Homo sapiens: one gene and its partners. The protein of the gene in region 1 purifies or fractionates together with the protein of each later gene. This does not show direct contact. Each region holds a gene or a part of one and is shown in the gene's direction. Other genes may lie near its edges. The genes, in order: AFG2B, RIPK4, MTR and TIMM13.

Region 1 (9,003 bases):
AGTGAGCTGAGATCACGCCACTGCACTCCAGCCTGGGCAACAGGGTGAGACTCCGTCTCAAAAAAAAAAAAAAAAAAAAAAAGCCATAAGTATGGTAAAGATAATACTGACCTTCTGTTAATTTCTTAAACACAAAAAGCATATTCCAATCTCAGGGCATTGGCACAGGCTTTTCCCTCTTCCCTTTCCTCTTCCAATTCTTCTGCTTGGTTTCTACTTATCCTTCACGTCTCAGCTGGAATGTCACTTCCTCAGAGACCTTCTCTCCTTTCCTGTTGTGAAGTAAGAAATATATATATGGTCTCTGCCTCTAGTCTCTGGCCTAGAGCTCCCAACACCCTTGTAATTTCCTGAGTTACAGGGGTGCTAGGAGAATCTTTGGTTCTAATGTTTGGTCTTCACTCTCGTTCCTGACATGGAGCTCTTAAATCCCGTGGACTTTCCTGAGTGATAGGAGCAGTCTTTTGTTCTACCAAGGCAATTCTTGCCCGGCTCCTAGATGAGGGCTGGTCACCGGAAAGCCCAACCATGATCATAAACTTGGAGCTTTCAGCCCCTACCTCCATTCTCCAGAGAGGGACGGAGGCTGGAAATTGAGTTAATAATTGATCATGCCTACGTGATGAAGGCCCCATAAAAATCCCTTAACTATGGGGTTCAGAGAGCTTCCAGGTTGGCAAACACACATCCATGTGCCTGGAATGTGGTACATACCAACTCCATGGGGACAGAAGCTCCTGTACTCAGGACCCTTCCAGATCTCACCCTTTGTATCCCCTGGCTGTTCATCTGTATCCTTATTACATCCTTTATTAATAAGCCAGTAAATGTAAGTAATGTGTTTTCCTGAGTTCCATGAGCCATCCTAGTAAATTAATAGAACCTAAGAAGGGGGTCATGGGAAGCCCAATTTACAGACCGTCCCTGGTCAGAAGCACAAGTCACAATCTGGAACTTGTGATTGGCATCTGAAGGTGGGGGGCAGTCTTGAGGGACTGGGCCCTGAACCTGTGGAGTCTGATGCTATCTCCAGGTAGATAGTCTCAGCATTGAATTGAATTAGAGGACACCCAGGTGGTATCTGTGGGAGAATTTGCTTGATATGTGGGGAACTCCCCAACCAACACCTGGTGTCAGAAGTGCTGTGTTGAGTGGCTGAGTGGTGTATGAGAGTAGGAAAAACAATTTGTTTTGTTTTTCCTATCCTTAATACCTGTTTAAAGTAGCCCTTTTCCGTTTATTTCTTTCAAAGCAATTTTCATCACCTTTAATTATCAGATTTATTCACTTGTTTACTTCTTCAATGTTTGACTTCCCAGTAGACTATAAGCTTCATGAAGGCAAGGATTACAGTGTTTTTATTGTTGTTGTTTGCCACCAAATACTCAGCCTCTGGTATAGTAACTAGCAAGAAGTAGATGTTCAATAAATATTTGTTTTAATAAATATATAATTATTATGTTTGTTGAAAAGTGTGAACCAACATCATAGGGAAAAATTACCTTAACATTAACTTCTAAAAAATGATGAATCAAGCAATTTCCTGAAAATGTGCAAGAACAGACTTTCAGAATGATGTTCTATGAACTGTAGTCTGCAGGTCATTTGAAATCCAGCAAATATTTTCATCCTCCTTCTTCTGATTCTATAACTTATTCTATATCTAGAATTACTCTAAAGACTAATTCTAACCTGGATACAAGATAAAAAGTAAAGATGGAAGATTCTAAAGAACAATTTTAACAATGTCCCATTTAGGGGGATTTTCATTACATACTTTATGAACACAGGTTCGGCATATTAGCTATCCGTGGAAATAAGTCACTTACTACATCTACATGAGCATGTTGAGATGAAAGTGTTTGCAAATCATGCTTTTTCAAGGGTGGCTAAACAAATCTCTATTCATCTATTACAACTCATAGTCATTGCTAATGTTCAAATATATTAGGGTTGAACATAACACAAAAATGGAAATGCTGGAAAGATTAACATTATTTAATCTACAGATGACTCATGCTACTGGTTTAACCATTTTCTTTAGATTTTTTTCATATACAGGAATATATTTTTATATACATATATAATATGCTGAAGGGACAAAAATATTGCATGATCATTATCCTAAAGAAACAGATTCCAATTATTTCTTTTGAATTATAGACTTACAGTTAATTAAGAATTTTTATAGTTAATTAAAAATTAGACAGATTGTAACCTTGAATGTAACAAAGGACATAAAGAGAAACCATTTGTCACATGTACCTTTTCGGGAAAATCTCACAAAAGATTTTGTTTGGCAAAGCTATTTGAAACAATTTAAAGCTAGAAATGTTTCTAGGCTATAGCAAGATGAATTCCATCGGTTTGGATTTTGACCTACCACTAAATTTTGGATTTAGGAACAGTCTCATTTTTATACTTAACACAAAAATTAAATTTTAACTTAGAAACTGAGTTTTACACAGCTTGAGGCTTGTGAAAAATTATGTGAAAATAAGTCAGTTACTGCTAGGGTCTCAGTGTTTGTGTCCTCCACAAAATTCATTTGTTGAAATTTTAACCCTTGAGATGATGGTAGTAGGAGTCAGGGCCTTTTGGGAGGTGATTAGGTCACGAGAGTGGAGCCCTCATGAATGGGATTAGTGTGCTTATAAAAGAAACATGAGGGAGCTAGCTAGTCCCTTCCACCATGTGCAGGTACAATGAGCTGTCTCTAGACAGGGGGCCCTTACCAGTCATGGAATCTGCCAGTGCCTTGTCTTTGACTTCCCAGCCTCCAGAACTGTAAAAAATAAATTGCTGTCATTTATAAGCTACCTCGTTCGTAGTATTTTGTTACAGCAGCCTGAACAGACTAAGCCAGATAATATATAGAGACAACAGATGGCTTCATACACCTAGGTGTGAATCCTGGGAAAATTGAGTGGAAACCACAGTTGAGAACACCAACGTCCTAACAATCCTGTAGCCTTCAGGCTTAGTTGGTTCTGGACTCCCTCTAGTGGTTCAATTCTAGTGCTTTAATTGATGTTCTTCAATTCATAGAATTAACAAATTTCTGGTCAGATTAAAAACAACTAAGCAAAAGAGCCACACAACTCCCATTAGAATGGTTTACCACAAGGAGGCCAGGTGCAGTGGCTCATGCCTGTAATCTCAGCACTTTGGGAGGCTGAGGCAGGTGGATCACTTGAGGCCTGGAGTTCGAGACCAGCCTGGCCAACAGGGTAAAACCCTATCTCTACTAAAAATCCAAAAGTTAGCCAGGCGTGGTGGTAGGCACCTGTAATCCCAGCTACTTGGGAGCCTGAGGCAGGAGAATTGCTTGAACTTGGGAAACAGATGTTGCAGTGAGCTGAGATCCTGCCATTGCACTCAAGACTGGGTGACAGAGCAAGACTGTCTAAAAAATAAATAAAATTTTAAAAATAAAAAGAATGGTTTATCACAAGGAGATTATGTCATTGAATGGCATGATAAATATGGATGTTCAGATGGCTGAAATCATAGTGTTGCAAATGGTTAGACCTAAAGGGACAGAATGGATTTTACTGGATGATTGGGAAAGACATTTATAGTTTTGCTCAGAGTGAGTGGATAAGAGCTGAAGGCCCAGTAACAGAATTCCTTGTTGCTTTTGTTTGCAACCTATGGTAAAGACTGGATCTTTTAGAGAAAGAGTGAAGTGAAATAATATTTCCTGTGCATATGGATTCTATAAGGTCAGAGGGTTCTTGTTTGACCTTGTATAAAATCAACCTCTTAGACCAACCAAAAGCAACATGTAGTTTCCTTCTCATCATATTCCTAATAGCATAGTTTGTGCCTCTGTTTTAAACCAATTCAGAAAATTTTGAGGCCGATTTAACTTTATTGGCTCCCTGTTTTGGCTTTGGTTATTCCACTCCATTAAACCTTTACTTCTTGGCCATTTCTGCACTGTAAATATAAGTAAATCTACTAACTCTTTTACATGAGATCCCTTTACATATTTAAGACAGTTATCCTGTCCTCAGTAAGTCTTCTTTCCCTCTCCCAGATCCTTAAAGCTTCTTGGAGCTGAATAGAAGGAACTCGATGAGGTACAGGCTTCTGATAAAATAACTTGATAGGCATGTAATTCACACCTTTAGGGGTCGGTAAAAACGATGGCTTTTTTTTTATTTCAAAAAATGCAAAGCTGTTATTTAAAAGTCCCCAAACCAAAAAGAACTGAAGCCAATGGGATTAAGAGGAAAAAAGAAAACAGGAAGTAATGGGTGACTTATCCATTTCAAGACCTCCTCCTGCTATTTTCTGATTCCTAAATTGTTCCAGAATCGATTTAAGCAGACAAGTACAGCTGAGACCAGGTAAGTTACTGTCAAGTCAAGAAGTCTGTCATGTCTGCCATGAAGTTTGGACAGAATGAGATCAGGAACTGGCATGGGTCTTAAGATCCCAGATCTGACAGTACTTCCCATTGATAAGATATTACTACACAGTCTGTAATTGATTATTTGCATAGATAGAAAAAAAAAACTTCCCAGCAACTTAAGCACTCTAAAATATCAGTTTTGTCAACTCACAAATTTGGGTTGCAGTGAAAGTGGGGAAAATAGAGGTAGGAAGATGTAAGTCAAATAAAAACAAGGTATATCTTCTTGTCTTTGAGTATCTGTAGTTCTTTTTTAACGGCAATTAAGAGGGATAGAAAATGTATTCCAGCTGATAAAAAGGAATTCCCTGTGCGAAAGGGAAAGGCAGAAAGCAGCTGGAAAAAAAAAATAGCAGGCAGTTGTCTTAATAACGTAGATAGGTATCGCCTCTAATACAGGACTTAGTACTGTTGTGCCCCAATTAGACAGTAAGCATTGATCGCATGAACTTTAGTGATTAACTTGTTGCCAAAGAATATTCAAAAGAATATCAGAAATCAGAACAAATGTACTGTTGGTGTGCTACAAATCCATCAGGTAGCCTAGTTTTCCTTCTTTCCTCTCTACAAGGGATTTTAAGCGCTACCGTGTGCTTCCCTCCCACTATGCTGGTACTTTCCCATAGGAAGGGTTGTGCCTGGACCTCCCAGATTGGAACCCCGATTACCGAAGGTCCCAAGGCTGTATTCTCAGTTACGCCAAGTCACCTGAGACATTTGCACCAGAGCACCCAAAATTCTGTGCCCATGCGGATAGTTAGAGTTTCTTCACAAAATAGCAAAGTCTCTAGGTTGCTATTCCAACGGCGGTAGTACTGATGCTCCAGTTCGAAGGCCAGGAAAACAGAATGTAAAGCCGGTGACTTCCAAGATATATGTAACCACCAAAGTACATGCTTAATGACCTAGTGAAGTGAGCTTAAGCCGCCTCCCAGACACCTGTAACGAAGACCATCTCGGGAAAGCTCTGGGTTAGGCAACTCGATTTCACGAAAGCGGACACCAACGCTCTACCCAGAGGCCCGAGCGTCGTCTAACGTTTCCATTGGCCCTTTCGGCCTTCACTCAGCTGCTAGCAACGCAGTCTGCCCTAGCGCATGCGCGCAATCTGCTTCCGGCCTGCGAGCTCGGTGTTCCGCTTTTTGTGGGCCGGGTGGGTTTCCTAATCTGGTTTCGTCTGCCTGGTTCATCTGTGTGCGATGGCTCCGGACTCGGATCCCTTCCCTGAAGGGCCGCTCTTAAAGCTGCTACCCTTAGACGCTAGAGACCGGGGCACCCAGCGCTGCCGCCTGGGCCCGGCCGCCCTCCACGCCCTGGGCGCGCGCTTGGGCTCGGCAGTGAAGATCTCGCTACCCGACGGCGGCTCCTGCCTCTGCACTGCCTGGCCTCGGCGGGACGGAGCGGACGGCTTTGTGCAGCTGGACCCGCTGTGCGCGAGCCCCGGGGCGGCGGTCGGGGCGTCGAGATCCCGGAGGAGTCTCAGCCTGAATCGCCTCCTCCTAGTGCCCTGTCCGCCCCTGCGGCGCGTCGCCGTGTGGCCGGTGTTGCGAGAGCGGGCAGGCGCGCCCGGTGCCCGGAATACAGCCGCGGTGCTGGAGGCGGCACAGGAGCTGCTGAGAAACCGACCGATCTCCCTGGGCCACGTGGTGGTCGCTCCGCCAGGCGCTCCTGGCCTGGTGGCTGCCTTGCACATCGTCGGCGGGACGCCCAGTCCCGATCCCGCTGGGCTGGTCACCCCTCGTACCCGCGTCAGCCTTGGCGGGGAGCCTCCGTCGGAAGCCCAGCCGCAGCCCGAGGTGCCCCTGGGAGGTCTTTCGGAGGCGGCCGACTCGCTGCGGGAGCTCCTCCGCCTCCCGCTCCGCTACCCGCGCGCCCTGACCGCGCTGGGCTTAGCGGTGCCTCGCGGGGTGCTCCTGGCGGGGCCCCCCGGAGTGGGCAAGACCCAGCTGGTGCGGGCCGTGGCGCGCGAGGCGGGCGCGGAGCTGCTGGCAGTCAGCGCCCCGGCGCTGCAGGGTTCCCGGCCTGGGGAGACCGAGGAGAACGTGCGGCGGGTCTTCCAGCGCGCCCGGGAACTGGCCAGCCGCGGACCCAGCCTCCTCTTCCTGGACGAGATGGACGCCTTGTGTCCCCAGCGGGGCAGTCGAGCACCCGAGAGCCGCGTAGTGGCCCAGGTGTTGACGCTGCTGGACGGCGCCAGTGGGGACCGCGAGGTCGTGGTTGTGGGAGCCACTAACCGGCCGGACGCTCTAGACCCAGCGCTGCGTAGGCCCGGGAGATTTGACCGAGAGGTGAATGGGCTTGGCGGGTTTGCCCACTGTCGGTGGAACCTCGGCCGCTTCTGGCGCCATTTGGCTGCCCCGGAGGCGTTTGCCTCTTAGGTTTGAGCATCGGTGAGGTTGGAGTTGGGGCTCTTTGCAATGCAGAGAACACGTTCTCTGCCGATATATGATCTGTGAGTCAGGACCTGTATTTCCCCAGAGTCAAATTGTCAGGACCTGTGAGTCAGGATCTGAGAGTCAGGACCTGTTTCCCCAGAGTCTAATTGTTTTGGGAAGCGAGGTGTCCATTACAGATTAATTTTGTTGTGCAGGTCCTATAATCAGTAATGTTAATTCTTAAGAGAATTTTGGTCACCTACAAGCGTGTTAAACTCATTTTTTGGAATGAGAATTTAAAGAAGGATAGCCTCAAGAAGTAAGTGTGTTGAAATAAAAAGGGAGAAGGTGGGGAAGAACTAAATGGAAGCAGGCATTAACTCTTCTGGATTTATTCATTCCTTGTCATAACACCAGCATCCTATTCCACAATTGAGGAGGTACCCACAACTGCTCCCTGAGTTGTCAGGGAGGTTGAATATTCAGAGCTGTCCTATTTTAAGCTTTGGTCCTAAATTGACTTGAATTCTAAAGAACAGTTTGAAATTTAGTGACTGATATTTCTATTTTGTGATAGGATTCAAAAGAGAAATGATAATTACACACTTTTAGCTCAGTTAGTTCAGGACTTGAGTGGATTTCTTCCTTGCACTATCTAGTACCTGTGTCCTTAAGGGCAGGGACCTAGCTATCTATACCTGGCTTCTAGAACTTTGTGTGTTCTTAAAAATAACAAAAACTTGTTAAATGACATAGAATTTTCATTGTGCAACTTTCTAGCCAGTGTTACTCCTCTGGAATATTAGGATTTTCGTATATTCAGAATCTAAAGTATACGTAAAGTGCACGGTACTAGTTCCAAAGTGGTTCACTAAATTGTCGTACATGTTTGTCAGGATAAAAAACATATTATTATTTTGGCCGGGCGCGGTGGCTCACGCCTGCAATCTCAATACTTTGGGAGGCTGAGGTGGGTGGATCACCTGAGGTCAGGAGTTCGAGACCAGCCTGGCCAAGATGGTGAAACCCCGTCTCTGCTAAAAATACAAAAAATAAGCCGGGCATGGTGGCACATGCCTGTAGTTCTAGCTACTCTGGAGGCTGAGGCACCAGAATCACTTGAACCAGGAGGTGGAGGTTGCAGTGAGCTGAGATGGTGCCCGCTGCACTCCAGACTGGGCAGCAGAGTGAAACTGTGTCTCAAAAAAAAAAAAAAAAGAAAAAAAAAATATATATATGTATACACACACATATATAAAATTTTTTTGGAAGTAATTCTTTTTTAATTGATCTATTTTTATTGATACATAATTGTGCATGTTTTGGGGTACATGTGATATTTTGGTACATGCATACAATTTGTAATTATCAAATCAGGGTGCTTAGGATATCCATCACCTCAAACATTTATCATTTCTTATCTGAGTGTTGGGAATATTTCAGATTCTCTCTAGTAGCTATTTTGAAATATACGAGAAATTATTGTTAACTATAGTCACCCTACTACACTATCAAACATTACACATATTCCTTCTACCTAACTGTATGTTTGTACCCATGAGCCAACCTGTCTTCATCCCCTCACCCCCAACCCTTCCCAGTGTCTGGTTGCTATCATTCTGCTGTCTACCTCCATCCATGAGATCAACTTTAAAAATAATATATTTTAAACTATATACTTCTTCTTCTTTTTTTTGTTTTGCTTTGCATATAGGTGGTCATTGGGACTCCCACACTTAAACAAAGAAAGGAAATTCTGCAAGTGATTACCTCGAAGATGCCCATCTCCAGTCATGTTGATTTGGGCCTTCTTGCAGAAATGACAGTTGGCTATGTTGGTGCCGACCTGACAGCACTCTGTAGGGAGGCTGCCATGCATGCCCTCCTTCATAGTGAGAAGGTAAGAAGTGTTAATTTATGAACATCTATGTTAATCTATTATTGTAACAGATTAATTTGGGGGTTAAAAAAAAGCGGTGAGTACATTTTCCTTAGAACATTTGATAGCTTCCACAGCTGTTGCTTATACATTTTACATCTCAACTCTATATAAATAGTATATGATTGAGGGTGGGGATAAAGGGCTGAGTCCTCTGGGTCTACTGAGTGAATTTGTTCCCTACTCTTATAGTAACTCCCTAGTGCTGAAGCCCAGAGCAGCCAAGAAATAGTGTGGCCCCAGAAGAATCAAAGAGTTTTTTTAATTTG
Region 2 (5,373 bases), on another chromosome or scaffold:
GTTTCTTGACCCAGCAAGAATTCTTCTTTGTGTTCTCTCTGTCTTAAGTAATTAATTTTGTGTGTTGGGCATTTGGCTCCGTCTTATGTCACTTAGCATGTGTGGGGAACAGGCCACATCACCAGTCTGTGCAGCAGTCTTGCCTGTGCCAGTGCCATGGGTGGAGGCTGACCTCAGGTCTACAGATTGGAAACCCCCTCCAGTGCAGTGAGCCTGGCGAGTAGCCGAGCCCCACTCCCTGGCGGGCCTCCTGTCTCGGGCGTGGCAGTCCCGCACCCTCTGCTCAGACGCTGCTGGGTACACACCCACGCCTTCGCATATGTGGGCTCCCCGTTCACGGTAGTCCAGGCCTAGTAATGTGTTGGTTATCCTTGGAGGTTTTACCACCAGGCCACCTTTGCAAACCACCTGATAGGGAGGAGCACTTCTCTTTTAGCTAATCTCATCTTTTTATGTTAATTTTGATGGCTTTTGTTTCTGGAAGGTGCTTTTTTTCCTATCCCTGCCCCAGGGTGCTGGACCTGGTGCTTGTTCTGGCCTCCTTTCTGCCGGCTGCAGGGGTAAGATGTGGTCCTGCCCTGTTCCTGAAGGGGCTGCAGCTCTGATGGAAAATACAGGGATTTACACTCAGGGCTACAGCCACGGGGGCTGAGGGCCAAGGCTGCAATCTCGGGGGAAGGGGAAGTTGGCTTTTCCTGGTGGATTGGAAACATCCTCTTGGAGGCAAAGACTTTTCCTGGATCTTACAGACTTCCCGGGATTTTTAGATTAGAATATTGGGGGCAAAGGAGGCTGTCTTGTTTTAAGGCAATGCTACATAGACACAGTGGGGAAGACCTGGTTCGACGGCAGATAAGCAGTGGGTGATGGGCTTGAGGAGGAGAGTCAGGGCAAAGTCTAAGACTGAGCAGAAAGAAATACCACCATCTCCCATGGATAAGTACGTTCTAGAACATTCTCTTTGGGTCTAATACTCTGAAATGACATCTTGTCTTCATGCTCGAGAGAGAATTACTTCACTGGCTCCACTTGGAGTGCCAGTGTTCAGACACCAAGCCTGACTGGGAGGGTTCCGTTTTCTTAACACCTTCCCACCGCCGACTTCCAAGTCCCCACGCGTTTCACATGAGGGCGGAGGAGAGTCTCGTTGCAGGGTTTCAGCATTCCAGGCACTACGGTAGGATTTTTGTGGTAAATACAACTTTTCATCCTGAGTGCTGGACTAACGTCCTCCTGAAACGAGAAGCTCGGTCCCTTCAGGATTATCATAGAAAACTTCCGACTTAACCTCCCCAGGTCAGGAGGTGCCACTTCGAGGTGGGGCAAGAGCTGGAGCAGCCCCTTCCAGCTCTAGTCACCATCTCTGCAGGCTGCTAGGCCTGGGGCGTCCGTGGGTGGCAGGTGCCAAGGCTTCCAGGCGAATGGGAGCTCTGGCCTGGTCTTTTTAGTCTGTGCCCTTTTTCCTTCTTTCTTTAATGAAGGGATGTTTGCAGTCACTGCCATCTCTAAGCACCAAGGGGGCTCACCACCCCGCAGGACAGGGAGAGCGGGTTTTATTTTGCAAACCGACTAACGAGCACCTGGGAGACATTCGCCAGCCTGCCCCGGGGCTCCCGCTAGGACTGACCTTAATCACGAGGCACAGACAACGCTCAAACACAGTCGGGTGACCAGCGAGCAGCCTGGAGGCCATGGCACTCCTCCACCTGAGCGCCACAGCCAGGCTCCCAGAGACGCCACGTCCCTGGATGTGCAGCCACGCTCTGACCTTTGCCTCTCCTCTCCCTGCAGATCTGGGCACCACAGACGTCCAGAAGAAGAAGCTTGTGGATGCCATCGTGTCCGGGGACACCAGCAAACTGATGAAGATCCTGCAGCCGCAGGACGTGGACCTGGCACTGGACAGCGGTGCCAGCCTGCTGCACCTGGCGGTGGAGGCCGGGCAAGAGGAGTGCGCCAAGTGGCTGCTGCTCAACAATGCCAACCCCAACCTGAGCAACCGTAGGGGCTCCACCCCGTTGCACATGGCCGTGGAGAGGAGGGTGCGGGGTGTCGTGGAGCTCCTGCTGGCGCGGAAGATCAGTGTCAACGCCAAGGATGAGGACCAGTGGACAGCCCTCCACTTTGCAGCCCAGAACGGGGACGAGTCTAGCACACGGCTGCTGTTGGAGAAGAACGCCTCGGTCAACGAGGTGGACTTTGAGGGCCGGACGCCCATGCACGTGGCCTGCCAGCACGGGCAGGAGAATATCGTGCGCATCCTGCTGCGCCGAGGCGTGGACGTGAGCCTGCAGGGCAAGGATGCCTGGCTGCCACTGCACTACGCTGCCTGGCAGGGCCACCTGCCCATCGTCAAGCTGCTGGCCAAGCAGCCGGGGGTGAGTGTGAACGCCCAGACGCTGGATGGGAGGACGCCATTGCACCTGGCCGCACAGCGCGGGCACTACCGCGTGGCCCGCATCCTCATCGACCTGTGCTCCGACGTCAACGTCTGCAGCCTGCTGGCACAGACACCCCTGCACGTGGCCGCGGAGACGGGGCACACGAGCACTGCCAGGCTGCTCCTGCATCGGGGCGCTGGCAAGGAGGCCATGACCTCAGACGGCTACACCGCTCTGCACCTGGCTGCCCGCAACGGACACCTGGCCACTGTCAAGCTGCTTGTCGAGGAGAAGGCCGATGTGCTGGCCCGGGGACCCCTGAACCAGACGGCGCTGCACCTGGCTGCCGCCCACGGGCACTCGGAGGTGGTGGAGGAGTTGGTCAGCGCCGATGTCATTGACCTGTTCGACGAGCAGGGGCTCAGCGCGCTGCACCTGGCCGCCCAGGGCCGGCACGCACAGACGGTGGAGACTCTGCTCAGGCATGGGGCCCACATCAACCTGCAGAGCCTCAAGTTCCAGGGCGGCCATGGCCCCGCCGCCACGCTCCTGCGGCGAAGCAAGACCTAGCTGGCTGCCTGCGGAGACCGGGGGTCCACGTGGGGCTCTTGTCCTGTCCTGTGTTCCTCGTGGGGATGGAACGATCCTGCGTGGGGCCCTGTTGTGGCTTACCTAAATGTTAACCAAGCAGAGGTGACATGGTGCCATCAGGAGGCGGCTGCTGCTGACCGGAGTGTCCCCTCCAGGTGAAGCTGGCTCAGGTGCACATGCCCGCTCCATCATCGATCTAGGCACCTGCTGTCTGAAGGGACCGTGGGTCAGAATCATTTCGTTGTGCTCCTAATGGGTCGCTGAGGCTGGTCTCTCAGTGATGAAGCCCCAGGCGTGGAAGCATCCACTCTCTCCTGAGGCGAGCCACCTTGGGTTGCTGGAGCTCACCAGTCTTGAGGGAGGTGCAGGGGAAACTGTGTTTTTTATCTTCATACATGACGGTGGGCAGAGAGGCCTGTCTTAAAGTTTCCATGGAATTGTTTTATAAAATATCTTAAGAGATGAATACCTTATCAGCTGTTGCTTGAAACCTGTTAAAAATGTTCATAACATTGGATAGTCTAGTCTCTAAATGATGACTAAGTAGTGGGGTTGGCTTTGAAAACAATGTTTTATGCAACAAGGAACGAATGGTAGCAGCCAGCTTTGCGGGGCGTATGTGTGGCCAGCTCTTAACCATTCCAGTCTATTACTTGGGTGAGTCCTTGTGGACAACCACACACACGTGCCCACATGGTACTAGCTGCCGTTCGTTTCTCGTTGCCTAAGATGTTTTGGCAACTCTAGAGCCACAGGCCTAAGTCATTAAAAAATTCTCCCTTTGTAACCTCAGTGCTGGGGACTGAGGCGAGCCCCCTCAGGTCGCTGGAGTGCACCAGTCTTGGGGAAGAGGTGCAGGAGAAGCTGTGTTTTTTATCTCCACACGCAGTATGAAGATAAAATTACATAGTATTACCTAGACATAGACAGTATTACCTAGGTAGATGCACTGCTCACCTGCGCCCTTCCCAGCTCTCATTTTTGTTAGGTGATTTGGGATAGGGATAGTGTTTTGGGGTATGGGGGGAGTGTTTCTGACCTGCTTTGCAGACGTGCCTCCGCACCTCAGCAGTTTGGGGTGTGGCCCCAGGGCGGTTCTTGGATGTAAAAGATGTGGCCATCTAGCCTCGTAACTTCACTGTCACCTGTGTCCCATAGGGTGCCTTCTGAATACTGTTATTAGAATAAGTTTGTTGCAGAACGTGACCCTGCGTGCAAACATGTACCGTGGCCTGGTATATGATAGAGATTGATATTAATGTACCATGTATGTTAATGTGAATCTGTGGGCAGGATACTTTTCCATGGCAGGAAATATCCAAGCTGTTGAAACTGGCTATGTTTTAATATGCCTCATTGTGCCTTTACTGTTGTGTGGACTGCGTGAGGGACAAGAAGTTCCATTTGATGTCAATAAAGCAAAGTACTTGCCTACTTTTTTGAAGCTGGTTGAGACTGCTTTTTCTTATCAACGAGCTCGAGTAATCTGGTTTCTGAAAACCAAAGGCTTGAGGCAGTGACGGAAGCTTGCAGATGGCCTTCTGGAAGGGCCCCTGTGTCCTCAATTAACCCAGGCCGCGGGACCCCGAGAAAGCAGAGGGTGGAGCCGGGCGTCGTCCTCTGCCTGGGTCCCTCCGCACACGGGTGATCAGGTGGGGGAGAGAAGTGTGTCTTGATGGAAGCTCCCAACACTGAAGTTTTTATTGAAATGTTATAGTTCTTACGTTCTGTATTTTGAAATAATTTCAGATTACAGAAAAGTGACAGGAGTAGTACATAGAACTCTGGTAACCCTTCAGCTAGATTCCCTGTTTGCTTATATTTGATTGTATTTGCCTTTCTCATCCACCTACCTACCTGTTCGAGAGTAGGTTGCAGACAGTGTGCCCTGTTACTCCTAAATACTTGCCTGTACATTTCCTAAAAACAAGAGTTTCTCCTGCATCACCCACAATTTACCCATCACATTCAGGAAATTAACATTGGTAGGATATTACCATCAAATCTGCAAATTCTCTTCAAATTTTGCTGATTGTCTCAAAACTGTCCTTTATAGAAGAAGAAAGTTGAAAAACACGCAAGCAGCACCTCTTTTTTTTTTCACTCTCTGGCCTGGGACCCCATGGTGTTCAATAGCCATGTGGCTTCCGTTTTTATCAATCGTCAGTTCCTCAGTCTTCTCTTTTCTGACTTTGAATTAACTTATGACATGGAGCTCCTTCATGGGTTCATTCAGACCTTTTGGGAAGTATGGCCAGTTATTTGGTGGAATGTCCTCAGTTTAGGTTTATCTAATTTTCCTCAAGATATGGTTTAGGTTACGCATTTTTGGCAGAAATACCACAGACATGATACTGTGTACCAAGGAGGGCTTTTTCCCCTCCCACTTTTGTTTATTTAC
Region 3 (8,193 bases), on another chromosome or scaffold:
ATATAATTATCACATAATAGCAGAATAGTCTATATTAGTTTTTGTTTGCACATGTGTAAACTATATAAAAGAATAATCAATATATGCAACACATTTTCCTGTTTTTTTCATTTTCTTGTTTTAAAATGATTTGAAAATAAATTTCTAATTATGGAGAACCATTGGATCTTGATTAATATCTAATTAATCCTAACCTGGAAAATAACAAGGAATTGGTATCTTGCCAGTGTTTAGATTTGTCATTGAGGAACATGGCGTGTCTTTCAATTACTCATTCAATGGAGTTTTGTAATTATCCCTAAATAGGCAATCTCTAGATCATTCCTGTGTGTTTTGTTTGTTGTTTTTATTGTAATTGGCTTATTTTTTCTTTGGTAAATTTTTTCCCTTTGGTATTGATTTTTAGATTTTTTCCCTTGGAAACTTCCTTTTCTTCAGTGTTTCCCTTCCTACTTGTCAGTGTCTCTCTTGAAAGGCACAAACATCCGTTTCCATCACTTCTGTTTTTTTTGTTTTTGTTTTTGTTTTTGTTTTTTTGAGATCAAGTCTCACTCTGTCGTGCAGGCTGAAGTGCGGTGGCGTGATCTCAGCTCACTGCAACCTCCGCTTCCCGGGTTCAAGCAATTCTCCTGACTCAGCCTCCCAAGTAGCTGGGACTACAGGCCTTTGCCACCACAACTGGCTAATTTTTGTATTTTTAGTAGAGATGGGTTTTCACCATGTTGGCCAGGCTGTTCTCGAACTCCTGACCTCAGGTGATCCACCTGCCTCAGCCTCCCAAAGTGCTGGGATTACAGATGTGAGCCATTGTACTGGGCCGGGCCACTTCTTTTTTTAATTACAGCCCCAGGATGGGCCTCTGCTTCCTCCAGGGTTCTCTCGCCCATCTTCAACTACTTCAGTTCGATTTTAAAACTTTAACTCACCTCTGAAGTTAGCCCTGTTCGATCTCTGCTCCTTGTCAGACTACATTAAAGAATCTAGATGTCTTCTACACATTGTCCTTCTCTTCCTCACAGTGTCTGCCTTGATGACCAAATCAAAAATTGTTTTATTGCATTACTGCCTGAGTGTGTGATATTTTAGCAGAATCTGAGCCATGAGCTTCTTAAGTAAAGCCTTCTACTCACTGGTCACAGTCTAGCTTCTCTATGGCTTAAGAGTAAACCTGTTTGATAAAGCTATAAATGGCATTTATTCCTTCCTTCTTGCTGCTTAGAATCTCACTGAGTTTTTCTTCTACTCCAACTGAAGAAGGTGCCACATCTCACCTGTTGGTGGTTCTCACCTGGCTTTATATTAGCATCACTAAGGGGCTTTTACAAAACACTTGCTGAGACCCCATCTCCAGATTCTGATTTAACTGGTTCAGGGTGAGGTGTTACTATTATAAAAAACAAGCAAACAGAAATCCCTCCAGGGTATTGTAATGTGCAACCAGAGTTGAAAGCCCTTCCTGATGGAGTAAAGCTGCCATTCCGTTGTTTTACTGAACTTCTATTCTGGATCTCTGAAATCCACCAGCACGATTGAGGCTTTATTAGTGTGTCTGTCCCACAGCCCTGGTGAGGAGTAAGACAGAAGCTTGGTGAACCTTACGTGATATGAGATATGACCTGCTCCTGACAAAGGCCTGTACACCAATGCCGTGTTCACTCTGAGAGTCATTGTTTAATCAAGTGACAGAGGTTGAGTATCTGTTAATGTGGCACAGATACTGTGCTAGACGCCATGAGAACAATTTGACAAGGGCTTCATCCTTATGGAGGTTAGAGTTGATGACTCTGTTTTGGTTCTAGAAATGAATTCCTGTCCTGTGAGGATGCACCTGCTTGTCCCACAAGCAGGGCTGTCTTTGGTATACAGCTGGGCCCTACACCCTACTCTCCTGTGGGTAACATACTGTTCACTTCAACCTGCCCTGCTTGGCCAGATAATATTCATGGCTCAGATGAGGAATGACCAGGACCTTGACTTCTTCATCTACCAACCAGACTAGGTTACTCAGTAATACTAGTAGCATTGGTCGCCCCTGTGCCTTCTCTCTTAGTGAGCTTAGATGAGCCATGAACCTAGAGCCTAGAACTCTATTGGGCTGTCTGGTGAAGGGTAGACTTTAAAAGTTCAAGCCTAAAGGCAGCTGCAAATGGGCTGTTTCTGACCAGTTTTTTCTGACATACATCTCAGTCTCAACCTTAACCTTTTCACTCTAACTGAAGGCAGAGGAAGTAAGCATTGAGAAAATTCCATTAAGGAAGACGAAAGCTCGCCACCTTCCCTAAAGCCTGGGTGCAGTGAGGCCACAGAGACCACTTCCTGTCTCCCTTTCCCTGGGCCATTTTGTCTGCTAAGTCCTGGAGGCACTTCCCTCCCAAGTAGAGGTGAAGTCTCACCCCACCAGCTGCAGAGAGCGATTAAAGAGACCAAAGAAAACAGTTGAAAAAGAATACCAAAGTAGTAAGTGATCAAAAGGCTAGATCTAAGAGAGAGTTCTTTTCATAATTCCCCTACTCCTCATTTCTGTTGTCTAGGGCCTCACTAGATGCACTTGACCTATGTCCGTGTCCCTACCCCCTCATCTCCACAGAAGTCTGCAATATAGATTGCAGTAGGGTTGGCCATTTTTCAAGAACATTTTTCGCGTTCATTGAGAATTGACCTTCAGAATTGTGACTTATTTTTTCTTATCTCTGGAGTGATAGCAAGTAATCATTTTTTAAGAGTAGATTTGATTTTTCATACAACCAGAAATAATTCAGGATGTAATTTGGTGAATACCCTGTGTTGAGGTTGTAAATTTGATCTGAAGACAGTTTCCATGACAAAGTTCAGAAATACTTTGAGTAAAAGCAGCATTCATACATAATGTTGAGCACCTACTTTGACAGGCACTGCTCAGGGCACTGGGGATAAAGCAAGACTGGCATTCTATCTAGGGGAGAGGAGTTTACCAATTAACAAGTAATAAAACAACGAAAAATACTAAAGATGTTGCCAAAATAATACAATTTCTGGAAAGAAATACTCCGAAGAAGAATGGAGGAGGTGGGGAAGGGTGGAAGTGGCTGGTTTAGAGAGGGTGATTTAAGGTAGGCTCTGAAAAGGGGGCACTTGGGCAGAAGCCTTAGTTCTGTGAAGCACAAAGCCATGTCATGGTATGTTCTGGTAGTGGCAGCAATAAATGAAAGTTGCTGAGGGAGGAACAAGCTTGACGGGTTTCAAAAACACCAAAGGAGCAATGTAGGAGGTGCGGAGTAGAGGAGAGGGCAAATGGTAGGAGATGAGATTGGAGATGGAGGCTGAGATTCTGAGGCTTTTGGGAAGCAGCTGGGGGATGAGCCTTGCCGGAGTTAGTGTTTTGCCTTTTAGGGACATTATTTTGAAGGTAAAGACTAATTTGTATTTATGACTTAAGACACATGTTAGGCCAGTGTTAAAATGGGTGAAGGTGAGGAATAAATGCATATCCTTGAATATGCTTAGAATGTTTTTGCAAGAAGATCTGAGAAAGCAATGGCAGTGTTTCCTGGGTGATAGGTTGTGACACTGCTGTCAGGTCAAGAGAGGAAGGGGCACTTACATGTTAATCTCTTCTTTAGTAGTATTTGATTTTTTATCATATGCATGTATTTTTAGAAGCTTTTTCATAATATACCATATGTGTGTATATGTTTAAGGTTTGATTTTTTGCAGAAAGAGTATAGCTGCTGTGTTTGTGAAAACACAAAGAGATCTTTAAACCAGTCTCTCCTCTGAGATAATTTGATAAGTGATCGGAAGCTGCTTGGCATTTAGATTTCTGTGAAATCCAAGCATTGACACTTGAGTGTTTTCAGTGAGTGAAATGTGCTCTAATGTATAACACTTAATATTTTAATATTAATATTTTATTAAAATAAAATAACAGGTATTTAATATTAATATTTTAATAGATAATTTTTCTATTTCAAACTACATCTTTTGCTCTTTTCCCTAGGCAACAGAAACAGACACAAAAATCAGAGTGTGCACCCGGGCCTACCATCTGCTTGTGAAAAAACTGGGCTTTAATCCAAATGACATTATTTTTGACCCTAATATCCTAACCATTGGGACTGGAATGGAGGAACACAACTTGTATGCCATTAATTTTATCCATGCAACAAAAGTCATTAAAGTAAGTGTAGGCATGTTCTCTCCCAAGTCATGGCTCAAATTTGTCCCATGGGTCTAATGAATGGTTAGAACTAACTTATATATTTATTGGCTGATGAAATGTTAACATTCTTAGTTAGTAAATTGTTTTTCTGAAATGTAGGAGACCTTATTTTTTTTCTTTAGTAGAGTTTTAACTTGTGTAACAAACAGACTGGAGAACATAACAGAGCCTGATGAACTCGCTTGAACCCAGGAGGGTGGAGGTTGCATTGAGCTGGGATCACGCCAGTGCGCTCTAGCCTGGGCGACAGAGTGAGGCCCTGCCTTGAACAAAATGATGCAAAACAAAAAAACCACAGAACCTGATAAATAATTAATTATGAAGCATATAAGAGCCTTCACTTAGGTCCCAAAATAGAGCATAGCTAGCGCCCCCGTCTGTCTCTCCTTTTCCAGTTACACCTCATTCTCAATTTTATAAAGTAGCTATTGTCCTGAGTTTTATGACGCTACTCTGTTGCTTTTCTTCATAAATTTATTGCTTATATATGTAGATTTGATTTGCATCATCTATGGATTTTATATTTGCAAATTCATGTACTTACTGAAATTTATTTGTGACCCCAAAATCAATACTCAACGTCACTTCTGCAGTTGTTCAGACTTACCCATATGCAGAGTGGTGGAAAATTTGAGTGGCCCAACCCATATTATTCCCAAAGAGGGCAAACATGGCAGTGACCTACCTTCTTATTTCAGCTCTCATCCTGTACACAGATGTCCTTTTTGCAGTCTAATGCCATGTTTTTCACACTTTTATGCGTTTTGTTGGTGAGGTCACTTTTTAAAATGGCCCCATACTAGTGCTGTCTAGTGTTCTAAGCACAAGAAGGCTGTGATGTTCCTTAGGGAGGAAATATGTGTGTTAGATAAGCTTTGTTCAGACATGAATTATAGTGCCATTGGCTGTGAATTCAGTCTTAATGAATCAACAGTAAATATTAGATACAGCATCTTAACATACATGCACAAAACAAGGTTATGTATTGATTGGTTGACAAAAATGTCATCAGAGGCTCATAGGAACCTAGCCCTGTATTTCTCCTAGGAGCAATGCTCTGGTATTCCCTAATTCAGTGTTTGCAGTGACTTTAAAGAACATAACTACCACAAAATAGTAAGAATTGACTGAATATCTGAATGATATAGTTTGGTTTTGCCTGCTTTTGAGCCTAATAAAAATAGAATCGTAATATTTTTATGTTTTTTTCTTACTCCATACTAAAGATTTATCTGTGTGGCTGTAGCTGTTTGTTCATTTTTATTAATGTATAATATTCTATGGTATAACTATACCACAATTAACTGTTCTATTGTTGATGGACATCTAGTTTTTTTCCAGCTTTTGGACATTATGAACAATGCAGCTCTGAGTATTCTTATATATGTATCTTAGACATGCATGCCTGAACTTCTCTGTAGCATAGACCCAGAAGTGGTTGGCTCATAGTAGTAGATAATGACAAACTGTCTCCCTAGATTCTTGAGCCAATAATAGTGAAAGTTCCTGTTATTCCACAAGCCTGATGATGCTTGATACTGTCATCGGTATGGTTGGAACTTCAATTTCCTTTTGTCCTTTTATAGTCGGTCAAGTTCATAGTGAACTAGGGAGTCTGTTCATTTAGGCTATGGAAGCCTTCTAGTAATTTGTACTTTCAGTGAATAAGGAATTCCTCTTTGTCTTTCTGCGTGTGTGTGTGTGTGTGTGTACGCGCGTGTTCTCCTTAGGGAGATTGGAGTCTAGTAGGAAAAACTACTTACGAAGCAGCGCCTTTGTAATACTGTAATACGGCAAGCTTTGGTCTATGTCTAGTAACAAGAAGCTCTGAATTACTTTGAACTTCGGATGCTTTTTGTTTTTTTTTCTTTCCACTCCTATATAAAGCTTAAGAGATGTGATTGCTGTTTTTGGCAAAAAAGGGGAATCTTTTCATATTTTAAAATTTTTGCCAGGAAACATTACCTGGAGCCAGAATAAGTGGAGGTCTTTCCAACTTGTCCTTCTCCTTCCGAGGAATGGAAGCCATTCGAGAAGCAATGCATGGGGTTTTCCTTTACCATGCAATCAAGGTATGGTAGAAGAACTCTTAGCCCTGCGGAAACCAGTTTTTAGTTGGGGCAGGGGTTTTCAAAGTGTGGCATGCAGGCTAAGTCCGGCCTGCTGCCAGTTTCTGTAAATAAGATTTTATTGGGATAGAGCCACACCTATTCATTTGTATCTTGTCTGTGGCTGCTTTTATGCTGTAACTACAAAGTTGAGTAGCTGTGACAGAGGCTATGGCCTAAAATATTTCTCTCTGGCCCTTTACAGAGAAAAGTTTGCTGATCGCTGACTTAAGGTATCACTGTAAATTCTCATTTTTATTTGTATTGCCCTTAGTCTGGCATGGACATGGGGATAGTGAATGCTGGAAACCTCCCTGTGTATGATGATATCCATAAGGAACTTCTGCAGCTCTGTGAAGATCTCATCTGGAATAAAGACCCTGAGGCCACTGAGAAGCTCTTACGTTATGCCCAGGTAGAGAGACAAGTGTTCTAATAGATGGATTTTTCCTATCTTTGAATGTATTACTCACCTACAGTTAGTAGACCTTCATGGTGGAATAGAAGCAAATATCGAATCATATATTTGGATCACTGAAGATTTCTACAGAGAGTTGCAGAGATGGTGGTGTAGCTAGGGCAAGGAAGGGTAAACAGACCATGCCTAGGGTGCTTCCGTATTCTGAACTTAGGTTTCTTTAAATTTATTGTAAAATGTAAAATTAATTTTTCTTGTACCAAGTAACATATTAGTTCTAGAAAATTTACAAAATTCTGGTAAGCAAAGGAAGAAAATAAAAATCACTTGTAATCCTACCACCCAAAGTTAAACACTTGAGATTTTGTTATAACCTTTAAGTGATGGGAGTTTTTATTTCTTTTTGCAAAATGAATATGCATGCATAGGTACATATACATACATTTTTTACAAAAATAGAACTATACTCTAGATGCTTTTATGGTAATATTTTTTTCTTAGCAGTGTACTGGGAACATATTTCCATTTTACTTGATATTTTTCTACCTCATTATTTAAAATAGCTGTTCTGGATTTTCTTGTGTGGCTATGTTAGTGTTACATGGTCCCCACTGTTCCATGTTTTGGTTTGTATACCTGTTTATGTTAGGATCTGGTCCATCTGTGGCAAAGTTCTGCAGTTCAAGGCTTAGGTCTGTGCACATTTGATGTGTAAAAAATGAGTATAATTATAGCTAATTCAAACACCAGCTTGTTTCTCATTTATATGTTGGGCGCAGTCCTAGGCACATGAAGTATCTATCGTAGATGGTTCTTCTTAGAATTCAGTTTAAGGAAAGTTGAGATCTTTACCTCAAAAGAACTTGCATTTTAATCTGTTTAAGAGAATGATGGCAAAGGAAGATATTTTTCCCACAAAGCATGTTGAGAAAGTGGTAGGATGCTTTTGTGTCTCTTGCCAACTTTGTTAATGTTTTCCATGTTAGAATCTGAATTTAGCTCTGATAGAACTGCCAACTTTGCCTCTTCCACAGAAGAGTAATAAAATGCTCTGGAAGAAGGATAGGACACTATGAGATTAACCACATCCTTGTTTTATCAGCCTTACTGGTAGTAAGACTTAGATTTCTGAAATTGCTTATGGAAGCCTTAGGCTCAACAAAGCTGAAAGGAGTTCAGACACTGTGCCAACGCTCACACGACCCTCCTCTCAGTTCCTTAAAAACATTTCCAGTTTCTCATGTGGACCCAGGACAGAATGTTTCATTTGGTTGTGGCAGATACAATCAAGTTCTACTTCTCAGCACATTACTTAAGAAACATTCCATAGATTTTTAATTTTTTTCCTATTGACCACATAGAGTGCTTAGCCCTGTCGTCTTCTTTGAACATTGAGACATGGGCGTTAAACACTATTCAGTTTTGAGTCATGGTCTATCTTCTACCTAGTAGGGGGTCCTTCATTAATA
Region 4 (8,037 bases), on another chromosome or scaffold:
GGGTAATGGAGTGACCTAGCTGATGGGGGTGACCAGGGTCAGGGTGACAGGGCCGCCGGTCAGGACGAGGCAGGGGACAAGGTGACTGGAATGACCAGGGCATGGGGGTAATGGGGTGACCTAGCTGGTGGGGGTGACCAGGGTCAGGGTGATGGGGCCACCAGCCAGGGCGATGGGGGCGGTGTCACAGTCCTGGTGGCTGAGGGTCAGGTGTGTGCCGTGTCTTCCAGGATCAGTCTCTGGGGAACTGGAGAATCAAGAGGCAGGTCTTGGAGGGGGAGGAGATCGCCTACAAGTTCACGCCCAAGTACATCCTGCGCGCCGGCCAGATGGTCACGGTAGGTGGTGGGGCAGGAGGGCGAGGGTGGCCACGGATGGGGTGTGAGGTGGGGTCAGGGGACTGGAGGCACAGGACTTGGCGGGGGTGGGTGGGGATGATGGTGGCACCAGGCACCGTCTCAGAGCGGCTGCCGCAGTCATAGAACCTCCATGTGCTGGTGTCACCCCACTGGGCCTCCCTGGAGCCTGAGTGGTGTGCCCTGGGTCTGAGTCCAGGCTGCTGGGGCTGGCAGGCGTCCCCGTGAAGTGTTAACAGTCAGGCGCATGGGCCATGGAGCCTGGTGGGTGTCAGATCCCAGTTCAGCCCCTGCTTGCCAAGAGCCCTTGGCCTCTGTGAACCCTGGTCTCTTCTTGTGTATCCTGGGGACCATCACCCTGGATAAGCCTGCGTCGGGCTGGAAGGACTGAACGCCCAGGGCATTGAAGGGGGCTTTGTGGTAGGGGCCACTGGCTGGCCCACGTCCCTGGAACCAGAGGTGACCCTGATGGGGCCATTGTTATTGGGTCCTCAGGTGTGGGCAGCTGGTGCGGGGGTGGCCCACAGCCCCCCCTCGACGCTGGTGTGGAAGGGCCAGAGCAGCTGGGGCACGGGCGAGAGCTTCCGCACCGTCCTGGTTAACGCGGATGGCGAGGTGGGTGTGTGTGGCTTGGGGGGTGCTCGGCTGGAGTCCTGGGCAGGGTCTGGGCACCCTCGGGGCCGCCACAGCAGCTCTGGGCCCGATCCCGGGACATGCCGCCGTGTCCTGTCCCGCACAGGAAGTGGCCATGAGGACTGTGAAGAAGTCCTCGGTGATGCGTGAGAATGAGAATGGGGAGGAAGAGGAGGAGGAAGCCGAGTTTGGCGAGGAGGATCTTTTCCACCAACAGGTAGGACCCCTGTGCCCACTTGCGGCTGGGGGGCAGCCTCTGGGGCAGAGTGAGCTCGTGCACACACATACACATGCGTGCTGGCCGCATCCCCGACGGGAGCTCCATCTGGCTGCCGTGGCTCAGGGTGAAGCCAGCCTTGGCTGTTACCAGCACGGCAGAGACCTGTTCTTGCCTCCTGGGTCGTGCCCATCGTGTGAATTTGCGACATCACAGACCTCAGGGTAGCTGGCCAGGGGGTCCCCTGAGAGGTGGGTGTTGAACAGCTCCCCAAATGCTCTCTGGTCAACCGGCTTCCTCAGTCGAAGACACAGGTCCCTTCAATACTGGCTTCTGGGGAGAAGATGAGTGCAGAAACCACAGCTGCATTAAACGCGTGCGTCGCAAGTTCCTGTGACTGTTTTGGAACCCAGAACAGAATGTGTAGCTCACAGGCGGGCTCATGGGGACATGGAAGTGGAATGGAAGGCTCTAGAAATAGACACTGTTGTTGCTCAGCCCCTCCCTGGTGGGGAGGTGGGGGCAGCCATCTACCTGCCGGCTGCCTCCAGGCTGGCCCTGATCATGGCCGACCTTCCTTCCTTCCTTCCTGCAGGGGGACCCGAGGACCACCTCAAGAGGCTGCTACGTGATGTGAACCCACACTCCTCATCCACACACCTTTCTTTACCCAGAGCCACTGAAAACTATTTTTATATCATTGGCTTTCTTTAGTTCTTGATACATTTCTAGAGAATTTCTAAGCGAACTGCCAGAACGTGTGGGTGGGTCTCCCCCAGCCCTCCCTCCTGGCGGGTCTCCTCCAGCCTCACTTCGCTGCCACTTCGCCGCTGCCCCGGAGACTTTTCAATCCCACCCCACTCCTCATCTCACCATTTGGTCAAATTGGAAGCCCAGGGCCAGGACCCGGAGGTTTAGAAGATGCTTGGGCTTGGAGGGAGGAGGGCCGGCGAGGCTAGCGAGGGGACAGGAGACGGCCCTGCTGCGGACGGAGCGCGGAAACTGCGTAGGAATTCAGTGGTGGTGGGTTTTTTTAAGGCTTTCTACAAAACCAAATTCAGAATCCAGGCGTCGACCTGGTGGGGCCCGGGGCCAAGCCTGCATTCTGGCTGCCCAGCTTCGGACAGCGGGAACTCCTCAGGCAGCCACGCAGCGGGTGTGGGCCAGCATGGGGATGGCGTGGCCCCCAGGGCGGGTTTTCACTCCGCTGCCTGGGCTTCCAGATTCCCGTTCTGGCAGCGCACCGGCCGGGTTTCTCGGACCGTTGACTTTATTTGGGGGAGTTTTCCCGCAGTTCAGTTCCTGACTGTGCAAGGCCAACAGGGCAGGGGAGGGGAAGACCTGGGGAAGGAAGAATGAGGACAGTCCCGTCGTAAGACCTGTCACAACAATAAGCAGGGAGGGGAGATGTGGAGGGGACACATCTGGTTGCCTTGGAGGCAGAAGCTGTGAGTTTCAGAACAGCTGTCTGCAGGGAACGCCACCATGTTGACCCTCTGGAGGAGAGCGCTGTGGAGCCCCTCCCGTGTTCCAGCTCCGTCTGCCCTGTGCCTATATATACACATGCGTCTATCCATACTGTGCTTTTATCTGTGATTTTCTCGCTGAAACCATGTTTCTCAGACAGGCCAAGGCCACCTGACTCCTATCACGACGCACCCAAGCCCCTCAGTCCAGCTTCCCAATGCCTGGCACCCCCCTTCGGCAATAGCTCACCGTTTACACCCTCCCTCATAGATACACAGAAGTTATTTTTTTAATGGATATTTATTTTTTTACATTGGTCAGTACACAGGTCAGGAGCTCACGCCAGGGCCTTGAGGACAGGCTGACCCTCCTCCCCGGGGTGGCGTGGGGCTGGGGCACCCTCCGACGGCAGAGCCTCCTTCAGAAAGTGCAGCTCAAGTCTTAAAGACACCAAAACTGAGCCATGGGCACGCGCCGTCTCCGGGCCATGGCGTTCACTGCAGGGCGGGGGCGGCACCGCTCCCCTGTGACTGCATCCCGCCTCCCTGGGGACCTGCCTGTGGCAGGAAGGAATGGGGGGCCCCAGCCCCAGGCCGGGAAGGAGCCAGCGGCCGACAAAGCAGAAACACCCGCTGCTCCACGTAGCCCCTGCTCGCTGTCCTTGCTCTCAGAAGTCCCGGTCCCATGTAGATAGAGGGGGGCGCATCTTACCAAAGCATTTCCTCCTGGAGGCTACGCCGCTGTGCTCCCAGTCAGGCGGCTGGTAGGGAGCTTTGCCTGCCCCGGGGATACCCTCTGCCAGCCGCTGGAAGTGGGAATGCTGGCGACAGACTGTGTCCTCTTTCCCACCTTCATAGCAGGAATCACCCGGACCCGACTGGCTGGGCTTCGTGCTAGCGAGGGTTCTGGGGGTGGGTCTTGGTGATCTTGTCCTATGGGGAGTCTGCAGTGGTCTCAGCCACATCCTATGTATTTTGGCTCTGGAGGAGCAAAGCTGTATCCTGGAGTTGGTCTGTGATTTGCCGACAGCCTTGCAGGCTGGGCTCAGGGACAAAGTCCCCCCCAAAACCCGCAGGTCCTCATGTCCAGACGCTGCCCAGTCCTGTCCTGAAAACAGCACGCCCCAGGCCCACAGAACCCCCCACCCTACATTTGCCTTGGGTGGAGCTGGGGGTGGTCCTAGGACTGCGGGTGCCCTTAGCTGAAGGGGGTGGGGAGAAGCGTGGACTGGGCAGCCTGTGGGTAATTGGAGGTTCATTGAGAATTGAGTCTTTGGAAACACTAAGAAAATCAAATTTTTAAAAGTTATTTATGGCCTGGGAAACAATTTGCATTTGTCCCCAAATACGCTTAGCTGTGTGCCGCTTAGAACGATGCGAAACCATCCCTCTGTGTAAGCCCGTGCCGTGTGACTCGAAGCCTAGCGCCCTCCCTGCGAAGCATCAGACGCCACCCAGCCCTGGGGGGAGGCCCACGCCTGCTGGACCAACGCGGGTTCTGGGGTGCACAGCGCCAGGTTAACGCTGAAGCCTGCCCCGCTGAGCCCAGGAGCCGGGAGGCCTGCGGGCTGACCCAGAATCCGATCATGCACCTGTCCTCATGCCAGCGGCTTTGGCTGGGGTTGGTCTGAAGCCTGCACGCGGCAGTTCTTTGTTAAAGATCTGAGGGACTCCTCAGTCCTGGGGCGTCGCCGCCTGCAGCCTCTTCCAAGCCCTGCGTCCAGCGAGCGTCACAGCACAACCTGCAAAAACGGAGCTGGGCTGCAGCTGGGGCTGGCATGGACTTTCATTTCAGAGATTCGGTTTTTAAGAAGATGCATGCCTAATGTGTTCTTTTTTTTTTCCAATGATTTGTAATATACATTTTATGACTGGAAACTTTTTTGTACAACACTCCAATAAACATTTTGATTTTAGGTTCTGCCTCTGAGTTTATTCCTGAGGGGAAGCTCGAGCCGGGGCCTCTGCCCTAATGAAGCGGATGTCTAAGAAAGATCCCTCCACCCCCAAGGAAAAAGGTCACTGGCTAGTGTAGCTAGTGTAAACAGGACCCAGGCGATGCATGGGACCCTGCCCTTTTTTTTCTAGTGAGCCTCCGACGCTGTTGCACAAGCTGACTCTTCGTCACGTGATGCGACCGGGCTCCGCCCCGGCGGCAACACGCTGTATAGACGCGCCGGGTGCCTCGTGCGCATGCGCGGCAGGCCCTTCGGGACGAGCTGGAGGCAGAGCGTGAGTACAAAGTGATCGGCCTCGGCCGCACGTAGTAGCCCCCCTACTCCCCGGCCAAGTCAGGGCCTCCCTCTTCCCGCGGAGTCGCAACCACGGGTAGCTCGTGTAGGTAACGGCAGGTCCAGGCCTCCGCATGAGCGGAGGGCCCCCCGCGCGACCTTGAATGGCCCGGGCGCGCGCGGTCGTGTGGGAGTTGTAGTCCTCCGTCCCCGTCCGCGCGGACTCCGTTTCCCGTGGTGCCCCGGGCGGCCCGCTTCCGGCGCAGTTAGTTACGAGTCGGCGCACGCGGCCTCGGTCCGGTTGACTTTGCGGAGCCATGGAGGGCGGCTTCGGCTCCGATTTCGGGGGCTCCGGCAGCGGGAAGCTGGACCCAGGGCTCATAATGGAGCAGGTGAAAGTGCAGATCGCCGTGGCCAACGCGCAGGAGCTGCTGCAGGTGCGGGGCTGGCCGGGGACGGGCGCTGGGGGCGACAGGGCCACCCCTGGGGGCCGACGTCGCGGCTAAAGCCTCGCGTGTCTCCACAGAGGATGACGGACAAGTGTTTCCGGAAGTGTATAGGGAAACCTGGGGGCTCCCTGGACAACTCCGAGCAGGTGAGACCCGCGGAGGTTCGGGGCAAGGGTCGCGAGGGCCTAGATTCGAGGGGGGAGGTGTCTGCGCGTGCGCAGACTAACGGGGAGGTGCGACGGAGTGGTCACTGCACGTGCGTAGTCTGCAGCCCGGGCGTCCTGGAGCCGGGGTCAGGGCGGTCCCCGGGGCCGCGAAGTCCCGAGCTGAGCCGTGCGCCCCTCCGCTCCCGCAGAAGTGCATCGCCATGTGCATGGACCGCTACATGGACGCCTGGAACACCGTGTCTCGCGCCTACAACTCGCGGCTGCAGCGGGAACGAGCCAACATGTGACCGGCGAGCGCGGGCCACCCCACCCTGTTCATTTCCATAAACGTGCTTTGAGAGGCGGGGTCCGCATGTACGTACTGCCTGCCCGGGGCTTAGGAGGGTGGCACCGGTGCTGGGACACACGGGACTGTGTCCTCGCCACCCCCCGCCCTGCCCCCTGCCAGCCAGTGCAGCTTGGATCTCGGGGGTGTGGGGCCCTGTGCCTTCCTGAAGTGCTGGCAGCCCAGTGGCACCTCCTTCAGGCCTTTGGGGTATTCCCCTAGTGTGCCCAAGTCAGCCTCATATTCTGGGCGGACAGCTTGTCTGGACTTCGGAGTTGGGGGTGGTCAGACACCACAGGAGCTGTCACCTCCTGCGGATGGGCAAATAAATTGGTGGAGGACGGAGAGAAACCTCTTTATTTCCCTCCTGAGGGGTCTCTGGGAAGAGGTGACGCGTGTCCCTGGAACCCCAGCTCGGAGGGTCTCAGCCTCCCCTGGGTTGGGAGAAGTCCATCTTTCCCCTTAGTGCCACCGGGCTGCTGAGTCACGAGGAATGTGTTGCTGCTGCCACCCCTGCCCCAAAGGCTAAGGGGGACAGCCTTCCCCTTGTCAGGGCTTGCTTTGACCCTGCTTCGTTCCACCCCGGGTCCTGGTGGAGCACCAGGCAGGTGGTCCTCGCTGTGACACTGAGGTGCTGAGCCAGTGAGCTAGGGTGGAGGGGCTGTGTTTATTGGAACAAAGGGTGGTACCAAAATGCATCCCCATGACCCACAGCCCCCCCACACCCGTCCTTGGGTAGGGTACGGTGGGGTGGGGTGTTGGGTGGCCTGCTGCTCCTGTTGCTTTCACGTAGAGTCTCGGCCTGGGCAGTCACGTGGTGGTCACTCCTGGATGTGCTGTCCTATCCAGCCTCTCACAGCTGCCACCCGGGTATAGACACCTGGGAAGTGGGGCCGGCCACAGCCATAGCCCCAGCTAGTGACCCCAGTTAGCACCCACCGTCCAGAGGGCTCCCTGCAGGCCAGGGGTCCCCCAGCGTCACCCTGTTGGGGAGAGAAGAAAGGGGGTTCAGAGGCCGGTACCTCCCCTACAGCAGCCCTTGGGTCATTGGCCCCTCTAGGAGTGACCCTAGTGACTTCCCCTGGGAGCCGCATTTTCACTATCTGGAAAATGGGCTCAATGCAAAGGTGGCAGACATTTATGGACACCCGCCACGTGGTCCCGGAGTGGAACGGTGCCTCCCACTGCAGCCTCTGCCTGCTCTGCCGCCGAGGCCCGGGGATGGGATGCGGTGGGTTGCCCAATAAACGGCTGTGGAGTGGAAATTCCTCCAGAGCCAAAAAGGCTCCCTGCTTGATCCGCTGGAGAAGCCTGCACCGGAGGGTGGCTCCCGGATGGTGGGCTTCGTGGCAGCGGGAACCCGCCCTCCCCGGCGGCTGGGCGGGACCTGGTCCCCTGGGCCGGGGCGGGGCTCACCGAGCAGCTGTCCACGCCACCCTGCGGGAAGCCGGCACACAGCATGCGGCTGCTGATCTGCACTGGGTAGAAGCGGCGGCAGGTCTGCTCGCTGAGGAGGCGCACGGCCGCCTTCTGCAGCTGCCGCGCCATGGAGCCTGCGGGCGGGCGAGCGAGACGGGGCGGGTGGGGACCGCGTCCGGCCGCCCCCCGAGCCCCGCACCACCGCGGCCCCGGGCGCGCCTACCTCCTTCGCGCACCGAGCCCCAGCCGGTGATGACGCAGCGCGTGCCGTCCGGGGGTCGCGGCGCGGGCTCGGGCAGGCAGATGGGACGCACCAGGCGGCTGCGACGCACCGGCCCCGCCAGCTCCAGCAGCGCCACGTCGTAGTCGAGCGTGTAGAGATTGTAGAACGGGTGCTTGTAGATGCGCGCCACGCGCTCCAGCTGCCCCTCCGCGCCGCTCAGGAACGGCGTGCCTAGGAAGGCCGCCCACTGCTTGGGGTCCCCGTAGCTGCGGGGCGCGCGAGGACAGGCGTCGGCCCGAGCCCCCACGCCCCCGGCCCCCGCCCCTGTGGTGTCCCCCAGCGGCCGGCTGGCACCCTGGGCAGGGTTATTGGCCTCTTGGTCTCTGGCTGTCGGTCTGGGAATGGGCTCAGTCTCCCCCATCAGGCACCGAGGCGGCACCGGGAACTGCAGCCGTCACCACCTAATATGAGCGCTCTGAAAAGGGGTCTAGTGGCCGTGCGAGTCCCGCCCCCCGCCTGCCCTCCCCTTCTGACCTCCAGCCCTGCAGAGC

What was found.
Region 2: the proteins of AFG2B (region 1) and RIPK4 purify together in Homo sapiens (affinity purification with mass spectrometry; 3 studies listed by BioGRID). This does not show direct contact.
Region 3: the proteins of AFG2B (region 1) and MTR purify together in Homo sapiens (affinity purification with mass spectrometry; 3 studies listed by BioGRID and IntAct, with this or other methods). This does not show direct contact.
Region 4: the proteins of AFG2B (region 1) and TIMM13 purify together in Homo sapiens (co-immunoprecipitation; 3 studies listed by BioGRID and IntAct, with this or other methods). This does not show direct contact.

What each region holds. Positions count from the first base shown.
Region 1 is NC_000015.10:45,396,811-45,405,813, forward strand, and holds the start of AFG2B (ATPase family gene 2 protein homolog B), read left to right. Parts: upstream 1-5,525; 5' UTR 5,526-5,619; coding exon 5,620-6,708; intron 6,709-8,509; coding exon 8,510-8,695; exon of another isoform or gene 8,696-8,702; intron 8,703-9,003. UniProt on the Homo sapiens protein: ATP-dependent chaperone part of the 55LCC heterohexameric ATPase complex which is chromatin-associated and promotes replisome proteostasis to maintain replication fork progression and genome stability.
Region 2 is NC_000021.9:41,738,416-41,743,788, reverse strand, and holds the end of RIPK4 (receptor-interacting serine/threonine-protein kinase 4), read left to right. Parts: intron 1-1,791; coding exon 1,792-2,951; 3' UTR 2,952-4,416; downstream 4,417-5,373.
Region 3 is NC_000001.11:236,846,368-236,854,560, forward strand, and holds part of MTR (methionine synthase), read left to right. Parts: intron 1-3,976; coding exon 3,977-4,156; intron 4,157-6,153; coding exon 6,154-6,270; intron 6,271-6,580; coding exon 6,581-6,721; intron 6,722-8,193. UniProt on the Homo sapiens protein: Catalyzes the transfer of a methyl group from methylcob(III)alamin (MeCbl) to homocysteine, yielding enzyme-bound cob(I)alamin and methionine in the cytosol. MeCbl is an active form of cobalamin (vitamin B12) used as a cofactor for methionine biosynthesis.
Region 4 is NC_000019.10:2,424,717-2,432,753, reverse strand, and holds TIMM13 (mitochondrial import inner membrane translocase subunit Tim13), read left to right. Parts: upstream 1-5,167; 5' UTR 5,168-5,220; coding exon 5,221-5,340; intron 5,341-5,429; coding exon 5,430-5,498; intron 5,499-5,707; coding exon 5,708-5,806; 3' UTR 5,807-6,665; coding exon of another isoform or gene 6,666-6,827; 3' UTR 6,828-7,129; downstream 7,130-8,037. Other genes in the region: LMNB2 (lamin-B2), read left to right, coding at 231-338, 852-971, 1,096-1,206, 1,802-1,843; TMPRSS9 (transmembrane protease serine 9), read right to left, coding at 6,666-6,827, 7,261-7,397, 7,487-7,752. UniProt on the Homo sapiens protein: Mitochondrial intermembrane chaperone that participates in the import and insertion of some multi-pass transmembrane proteins into the mitochondrial inner membrane.